2 separate regions of the Homo sapiens genome follow, and region 1 is linked to region 2. The links come from fine-mapping of genetic effects on gene expression. A gene starts in region 2. The other region holds a variant in brackets. All regions are shown on one strand. Distances are from middle to middle. Region 1 overlaps TCERG1L (transcription elongation regulator 1 like). Region 2 holds the start of TCERG1L-AS1 (TCERG1L antisense RNA 1).

Region 1 (4,390 bases), 53 kb after region 2:
AAATTCAATCTTCATTGTCTGTAAATACAGCAACGTTTTACAGACTCAACTCCATATGGACCTTGGAGATTTTTCTTTTCCCAACATCAGTTGATCCAGTCTCTGGATAATGCTGTTACTATTTTAAATGGAATAAACATTTTAAATGTGTGATGTCTCAATCTTAAAAGACTACCACCATGTCTCTTAGCATGGTTAAAAATGCTGATAAAACTTTTATAATACTGTCTTCTGAAGCTTCAGTCAAATACCTCTGGATTTGACACAAAGTGTGAATTACCATCATCTAGCATTAGCCCTCAATGACGTGAAATTAAAAATGCCACTAAGAACCCAATAGAATACCACACAAAACTAAAACAAAGAGTCAAGCTCCCCTTTCACTGGCCTGGCCTTGTAGCCAGGCATCTCTGCCTCTCAAGTTGGCAGGGAGCTCCTGCTCTCAAATGTCTGCAGTGGAGTCAAGACCGTTTGAATCCACATGCTCTGGGAGGAGGGCTTTCCCCACGCAGCAGCTAATAAAATATGTATTAGATCTAATCGGAAAAGATCCTTTGTGAAAATGCTGAAAGTTCCTCTCTGTTTCTTGGCGAAACAAGATTTACAGGCATTGTCAGAAACAACTGCCTCTGCCAAGCACCCCATTCCTCTGCAGCTGAAGAAAATCTCTTCCCCTGTCCGTGACCAGGGTTTTATGGAATTGAGGCATCCATCCAAGCACAACAGCAGATCAATGTGCTGCAAAGGTCTAAAGTGAATGTAAGGTGGAAGAAAACACACTCCCATCTGCGTACATCTGGTCTCTGAAGTGGCGTTCATAAGACATTTGGAACAAGAATAAAATGCTGGGTAACAGTGATGCTGGATGGAAGCTTTGAGGGGCGGAGGGAATGAATGGCCATCTCTGCGTTAATCACCTTACGTGATGCAAAAAGACAGCCAGAGCCGACCGCTTGGAAGGATCAAGGTTTCTGCAGGAAGTGCCATAAAAACTTGATTACTAAACTCTGCAATCGGGCACAGGATTCCTTAATAGTCAATTTTCAACATAACCAAGAAGAAACATGCTTTCACTTTACGTTCATTAGAAATAAGCAGCTTAAACACTTCAAAGGAGGTGTAAATAACCCAGGGCTTAGTTACTTGCTGGTGCCTCCAGCTTGCGTTTGTGGGGCGGGTCCTCAATGATCCTGTTGAGGTCTCCGCGGTCCTTCAGGTCCATGGGCTTCTCCCAGACAGACAGGTGCATCGTTGGGTTGAAGAAGAAAACTCGGTCATCGCCCGTCCAGACCACACACCTGTTTGAGTGGAAAAACTCATCTCAGTCGCTCTCGGAGACACTTAATTAGAAAGTCGTTAGCATGAACTCTCACTGAAAAAGCCCCTCAGGACCGAAATCCACACATTTGCAAAGCTTGTTTATGGATAGTATGAATACTAAAGACAAAGCCTGCCTTTTTAGGTGACCTTACGGATCTGACTCATTTGATTAACAGGTAGACATTCTTATCACCAGCCTTAGACCAGGGAGAACAACAACATTCAGAGAAGCCAAGCAGCTCATCAAGGTCACAGGCAGGCAGAGCTCTCTCCAGCCCACCAGCTGTCACTGCCTCAGTGAAATTCCATTCCAGATGCAGAGCACTCTGGGGCGCCTCCTGGCCCTGGTTCCGGCAATAGAGTAATTCGGAGAGCGGCTCCCTACACTTCCCCAGTTGAGCTCTGCATGGCCATCAAGCAATGCGCACGGCCACAGGTCATTACCCTCCGGCAGCAGCAGAATTAAAAGGGCTGCTGTCATTAGCAACCACAGCCCCGGTGTCCTGCTCATTTGTGGATGGGCAAATAAGGAAGATTTGTATTTTCATTTATGGAAACTGAAGACATCTAAAAGGAATTATGTGCCCTTTTTAAGCCCCTTATCTGTGAAAAGTTATCAGAAAAGATTAAAAAGAAAAAAAAATGAAGAGAAGAAAATTAATGAGAGGGAAGGAAAGGAAAAAAGTCCCTCCCTAAGGAATGCGGGTCCGGGAGCCTGCGGCATGGAGGTGCACGGGAGACTCTGCACTCTGACACTCTGACCCCGCGCTGTCCCCACGAGCAAGCGCGGCAGATAAAGGCCAGCAAGGCCGGCCGGGGCTCTGGGTTTAACCCCTAAGTCGTGTCAGGGTGCT[A/G]TTAGAGATTGAGGCCTGTGCTGGCACCGAGGCCCGTTCCAGGTGTGGACCTCCCAGGAGGTTCCCCTGGGGCAAGCCCCCTCCCCTCTCTGGGCCTCGGCTTCCTGCAGTGACTTCAGAAGGTCCCTCTGGCTCCGCAAGTCTCCTGGGACTTTTCAGATGTGCAGGAGTGAATGGGTGGGAACACCCACATACCCACCTCTAGCTATTGACTTCCCCGAGGGAGGCCCCCGACCTGTTGGGGGTACTGTCGGGCACGGCCTAGGCCCCCGGTAGCCCACTCACGCCTCACTCCCGCCAGCCTCGCACAGGTTCGGGAGGAGCTGGGGATTCGTGCCAAAAGAAGCCACTCTGTTCTGCATGCAGAAAATCACTCCACACTTCACTCACCCAGGCACGTTCCATGGGCCAGGCAGAGGGCTCAGGGCCTGGGGCCCTGCATGTTGGCAACCCTGGGCAGACCAGGACCCCTCCCAGAAATCACCCTGAGAAGGTGTGCCGGCTCCACTACTCAGCCCAGCCACGCTCATGAGTGTGGGAGCCAAAATGATGGCTCCAAAGACGTCCACGTCCTGATCCCTAGAACAGGTGTGCATCACCTTACATGGCAAAGGGTCTGTACAGTTGGGATTAGGACCCTGAGATGGGGGAATAGCCTGGTCATTCAGGTGGCCCCAAATGTAATCACAAGGGTCCTTCTAAGAGGGAGGTGGGAAGATCAGTGAGGAAGAGATAGGAAGATGGAGGCAGAGGTGTTTCACACAAACACACTCTCAGAGACACACACAAACACACATACACACAAACAGACACACAGAGACACACATGCACACAGACATAGAGACACACACATAAACACACAGATATACAGAGACACACATGCACACAGAGACACACACATGCAGAGATACACACATAAACACACACAGACACATACACAGACACATGCACACATATATACACACACAAAGGGACACAAATGCACACATATACACATGCACAGAGACACACACATGCAGAGAAACACACATACACACAAATACAGACACACAGACACACATGCACACGTAGACACACACAGAGACACACATGCACACACACACGGAGAGACAGAGATCGGGAGATGCCTGGCCTTGAGGCTGGAGAAAGGAATCACGAGCTCAGGGTTGCAGGGGCCTCTGGAAGATGGAAAAGGCAGGAAATGGACCTCCCCATAGGCTCCAGAAGGATCCAGCCCTGCCCACACCTTGACTTTCGCCCAGTGAGACCTGTGTCAGACTTCTGATCCTCCCAACTGTAAGAGAATCAATGTGTGTCGCTGGAGCCCTGAGTCTGTGGGAGACGAATCAATGGGCTTCCCCCTCGGGGCGACTCTGTCCTGAGCACCAGCATCTGGGAGCCCTGACCTGAACCCCAAGTGTTGTGCCTGGAGGCCTTGGCCACAGCTGGCCTGGTCATCCATGTGGGAGAATATGACCTGCCCTTCTGCCTGGCAAACTTTCCAGCTCCAGCCCTGCCCTTGACCTACCAGGTGACCCTGAGAAGGTCGCCTCCCCTCGCTGGTGGCCTCATGCCCTCAACCCTTCAGATGGGGGGTGGAATGGGAATTTGCTTTATCTGGACAGTCCACCCAACTAGGGAAATGGACCAAGATAGAGTGTATCACACTCCCATGCCAGGTCCTGCCCTCAGGGGAGCGGGCTCATGGGCCCGTGGGGTGCTGCCCAGGCCCATGCTGGAGGCTGGAAAATGAGGCTGGCCAACTACAGCAGACTCCACACCCAGGTAGCTGGATCCCTTCCTGCTCTCAGATCAGGCAGACCATTGTCCCCAGCAAGCCCAGGCCAGGGATACCTGACCTCTGGGGCCTGCAGGGAGGCTGTGGGTATGCATTTATGGTGCAGAACCCGGCTAGCATAGGAAGTTTTTATTGAGTCTAAAGCTGAAGGTAACCACACTGTGCTGTAAATTATGCACAATTCAGCTACTATATGAACTCTGCAGACAGCATGGGCCAATAGGGAACATAAGCCCAGGGTAGAGACTGACTCCTTTCCTCCAGACGCAGACCTGGTGATGACCTGCTTCCCGGGTGGAGCTGTGAGTGAGTGGGCCACAGGCAGAGCCTATTATTAGCTCCCCACGAGGCCTGGGCTCTTTGGCAACACGTAGGACGTGGACAGTTTTACTACTGCGACATTGGGCTCTGTCTCCAG
Region 2 (4,390 bases):
GGTGATGACACAAATGCCTTGAGATTGTTACAGAGGCTCCCGTTCCTGCTTCCCCACAGTCCTGCAGTGGATTGATAATTTGTGTATATTACAAGTAATTTGCATAATTAAAACAATTAAGGGATCGACGTATCACGGTGATTAGAAATGCATCAAACTCTGAATGTACAAAAGAGAGAGCTTCAATATGAAACAGTAATCCTCTGAGAACGAAGACCCCGCAGTGCCGGTGCCCGCTGGGCCGTGCAGGTCTCGGCCGCCCCACGCCCGTGTCCGTCTCCACCGTGACCCCCTCGCCCCCGGCACGCCCAGGGTCAACCCCCGGGCTTATTGCATTTTTTCACAAACTCATCTCATTTTCCGCAGCCTTAGTCTGTTTTCCTTGTCCCGTTTCTTAAGAATAAGTATGAATTGGTTGAAAAAATGCTCCTGGTCCTTTCTTTTTTGAACAAGTCGGAACCTCTGATCCCGGCCGTATTTCTCTGCAAACTCCTTAAACGTGGTCCTGAAAAAGAAAGAGTTTCCTGAGACACCTTCCAGAGAGCAACTCTGGCCTCCCCAGAGATCCTGCAGCGGCACCGCCTGAGCAAGCATCCAGCCCTTCCACCAGGCCTGGCCGTGGGTGGCAGGGCACCCGGTGGGTGAGCGGCTCTGACCAGCCGTGCCTGCTCCTCACCCGGGTCCTGCAGGGCCCTGACCCACCCTCACTTGCAGGACCCCCTTGTCTCTCCTCTGAGTGGTCTCCGGAAATGAGCGGCCCCCACCAGCCTCCTCAGCCGTCTCATGCAGCTGTCACTCCCCCAGCCGCCCCGATCACAGCTTTGCTGGCCAGGTCTCCTCCGCCCCTCCCTTGCTGCCACCAGGCTCTGCCTGCCACGGTCTTTCTTACACTGTTCCCTCTGCCTGGTACACCCTTCCCTTGTTTCTTCCCCCAGTTAGAGCTGCTCGTCATGAGAAACCAGGCCAGGGGGTCTTCTTTGGGAAACTCGCCCTATCTAGAGGCTCAGAGAACTGTGACTCCATCACAGCCCTCTTCACAGTGGTGATCTTGTTAAACCTCACTTGCGGAACTGGACTCCCACATTCGAATGAGGGAGACATTATCTGCTTCGTTCTCCAATAAATGCCCTGAATGTCCAGCCCAGTGCCTGGCAAGTAGTGAGCCCCAAACACTGATGGAGCGAATCAGAGCTGCCAGGCCAGGTGGTGCCCCGTAAGAAAATGCGAGCGACCCAGCCTAGAGCAGCAAGGCTGTTCTCAAGGCTACGGCAGCTTAGAGGGCAAAACAGGATGCGCCTCTGCTGTGACCAACTGACCTTCGCAGGCACCGGGCCCCGCAACTTCCTGTTCTCTTAGCCTTGAACTTGAAGCCAGGGACAGGGACAGAGGTAGAGGGACCAAGGCCTGGAGCCGCTGGCCTATGCAGATGCACTCGCTTGTCCAGCGACAGTCGGGCAGGGCCTGGCCTGGGCAGTGTGCTCTGGGGTGCACGGAAAATGTGGACATTCTTTGTCCGGGGGATTCTTCTTATTCCCTCCCACTTCTCCTTACAGAGAATTTTACACTTCCTTGCAGACACGGAATTATTGTGTTAAATTATTATAACTTAATAGCTTCTGAAATATACAAACAACAAGATTATGCCGACATGGCTGTTAGAAGACAAGACAAATAATTAGCAGACTCATGCTCATTTCTGTCATTGAACAATTCGTCTCATTCCTTCCCCAAGGCGCTGCCGTTTTCCTGCTCTCCGTCTGTGGGGGTGCTTGTTTACACATCTCTCGCAAGAAAAGCGCTTCTCTCTGGCTTCCCTCTTCCTCCCTCCCTCCTTCCTGCCCTCTCCCCTGCCTTCCCTTCCTCCTTCCTTCTCTCCCTCCCTCCTTTTCTCCCGGTTCCTTTCTTCCTTCTCTCCCTCCTTCCCCCTTCCTTCCTTTACTGATGTAACCACCTTGGTGTACCTTGGCTAAGCCACACTCCACCCCGACCTGCGGGGGATGAGTCAAACGGTCAGACTTGCCTGGGCTTGTTCCACGCTCCCCTGGCTAGACAGGCATCTACACATTCTCAGTTAGGGGCTGGACAGGGGCAGCTGCTAGACAGGCCCTATTCTGGGCCTCTCTGAAAAGAAGAGTCCCTGAAAAGAAAGGGAGCCTCCCGCTTCCGTGGCCCCTTAGCCATGCCAAGGGGCAGCAACCGGCTTTCTGCTGATGCTGATGAGCTGTGGTGTGAACTCACGAAGGTCAGCTGATTCACAGGCCCTGGATCTCTGCTCTCCCTCTGCTAAGTGGGACTCGGGCCAGCCTGCCATGAAGGAGGCGGCTGCTGCAGCTCTCAGGAAGGAACACTGGGCGGCTAACCCCACCGGGCGGCCAACCCCACCGGGTGTCAACCCCACCGGGCGGCCAACCCCACCGGACGGCCAACCCCACCGGGCGTCAACCCCACCGGGCGGCCAACCCCACCTGGCTAGGACCCAGTCCCCGGTAGCTGCTCTCCCGAGAGGCGGGCAGGGCTGGGGCTAGGGGCTGTCCAGGAGTGTTCTGGACTGTCCCGTCGCCACCATTCCCACAGGCTGCTCAGGACCGAGGCTGAGACGGGCGACCAGGACGGGACTGTATGGCTGCAGGAGGCTACACAGCCTCAGGAGGCTGCTTCTAAGAGGCCCACGTCGCCTGCATGGGGACGCGCCTGGCTCTCCAGCATGTGGTCATTTGAATTGTACATGTTTCACTAGGATGCCTACAGAAAAGTATACAGAAGATCTGGAAAAAGTTTTTGAAATGTTGAAAACTTAGCTACTTTTAAAATGAAAAAAATAGCTTTATAATTATCAAAGCAATATATCCCAGTGTAAATTTTAAAATAATTTGCTACATTATAGTAAGCATCTTATCTCTATGTGCCCTATAACATTATGTTGTATAGTTTAAATATATACAATAAAATTTATTTTAAAAAATAGCAGGCAATTAACTCTCATTTTAAAAAGAGTCCGTTTAACTCCCTTCTAATTTCTACCACTCGTTTTCCTTCTGTGTGCGTGTATGTGTGTATGTCATCTTTTTTAAATGGCTCAATGCATTCCGAATATTTTTTCCGTTGTCTTCATGATGTATTCATGGGAAGGGGAGTATGTGGCTTATTGCTGCTAGTTTATCAATAGAGAATGCTGGCCAGATGTCTTTAACAGTAATGATGGTCTCAATAGCAGTAATGACAGCTACCACTTTCGGAGCTCCTCCTGCCTGCCAGGCACCGTCGGGGTCCCTCCCTGCAACTCCTCACGCCATCCTCCTCGTCACTTTCTGAGGTGTGTGTGGTCATCCTCCCATTTGGAGGAGGGCTCGGGAGCACAGGAAGGTCCAATACTTACCCCATGGCCAGGAGAAGATGGGCCAGGGCCAGGCTGTGAACCAAGGCAGAGAAGGGGCTCCAGCACCTTTCCAGAGCCCTTGCCTCCTCCGCCTCTGTCCCAAGGCCACCTGGTGGGTGGACACAGCTAAGCCATGGCTAGAACCCAGCATTCTCATGACTGCTTTAACAATGGAAAATCACAAGTTGCAGGCAACAGGACACACATTTCCTTGTCTACATTAGCACTTGTGATGAAGATAATTCATGCTATTTTTTCCCTATTCAGAAAGTACCTGTCCTTAGAATAGCTAGAGAAGTTTTATGAGGATTGTGTAACTAGCACTAACTTAGGTCACCTAATTCTTGATCAACCAAATCACAGGTCAAACAAAGGGGGCCTATGCCTTCATAGAAAGCATCAATTAATGTCCATTTAAAAACCGATGCAGGCCAGGCGCGGTGGCTCATGCCTGTAATCCCAGCACTTTGGGAGGCCAAGGCGGGTGGATCACAAGATCAGGAGATCCAGACCATCCTGGCTAACATGGTGAAACCCCGTCTCTACTTCTCTACTAAAAATACAAAAATTAGCCGGGTGTGGTGGTGGGCACCTGTAGTCCCAGCTACTTGGCATGTACCCAGGAGGCGGAGCTTGCAGTGAGCCGAGATTGCATCATTGCACTCCAGCCTGGGCAACAGAGCGACTCCATCTCAAAAAAAAAAAAAAAGAAAGAAAAAACTGATTCTGGCTGGGCATGGTGTCTCACGCCTGTAATCCAAGTACTTTGGGAGGTCGAGGTGGGTGGATCACCTGAGGTCAGGAGTTCAAGACCAGCCCGGTCAACATGGTGAAACCCCATCTCTACTAAAAATACAAAAATTAGCTGTGCATGGTAGTGGGTGCCTGTTATCCCAGCTACTTGAGAGGTTGAAGCAGGGAGAATTGCTTGAACCCCGGAGGCAAAGGTTACAGTGAACCAAGATCGTGCCATTGCACCACAGCCTGGGTGACACAGCGAGGGTCTGTCTCAAA

Evidence for each region. PIP is the estimated chance that this variant, and not a neighbour inherited with it, causes the effect. A credible set is the group of variants that fine-mapping cannot tell apart.
Region 1: its variant is the best candidate, but not a certain one, in a credible set for the expression of TCERG1L-AS1 in thyroid (GTEx, PIP 0.90).

What each region holds. Positions count from the first base shown.
Region 1 is chr10:131,145,363-131,149,752 of GRCh38, forward strand. It overlaps TCERG1L (transcription elongation regulator 1 like), which reads right to left. Exons shown (of 12, transcript NM_174937.4): 7 at 1,144-1,298. Among named protein-coding and RNA genes, the nearest start is that of TCERG1L-AS1, 52 kb to the left of the region's middle. RefSeq lists an enhancer at 1,788-2,289. The variant A/G (reference allele first, on the strand shown) is at 2,175.
Region 2 is chr10:131,092,814-131,097,203 of GRCh38, forward strand. It overlaps TCERG1L-AS1 (TCERG1L antisense RNA 1), which reads left to right and starts at 2,405. Exons shown (of 2, transcript NR_120623.1): 1 at 2,405-2,486; 2 at 2,575-2,964. TCERG1L (transcription elongation regulator 1 like) reads right to left here. Exons shown (of 12, transcript NM_174937.4): 12 at 1-505. The coding sequence ends at 349.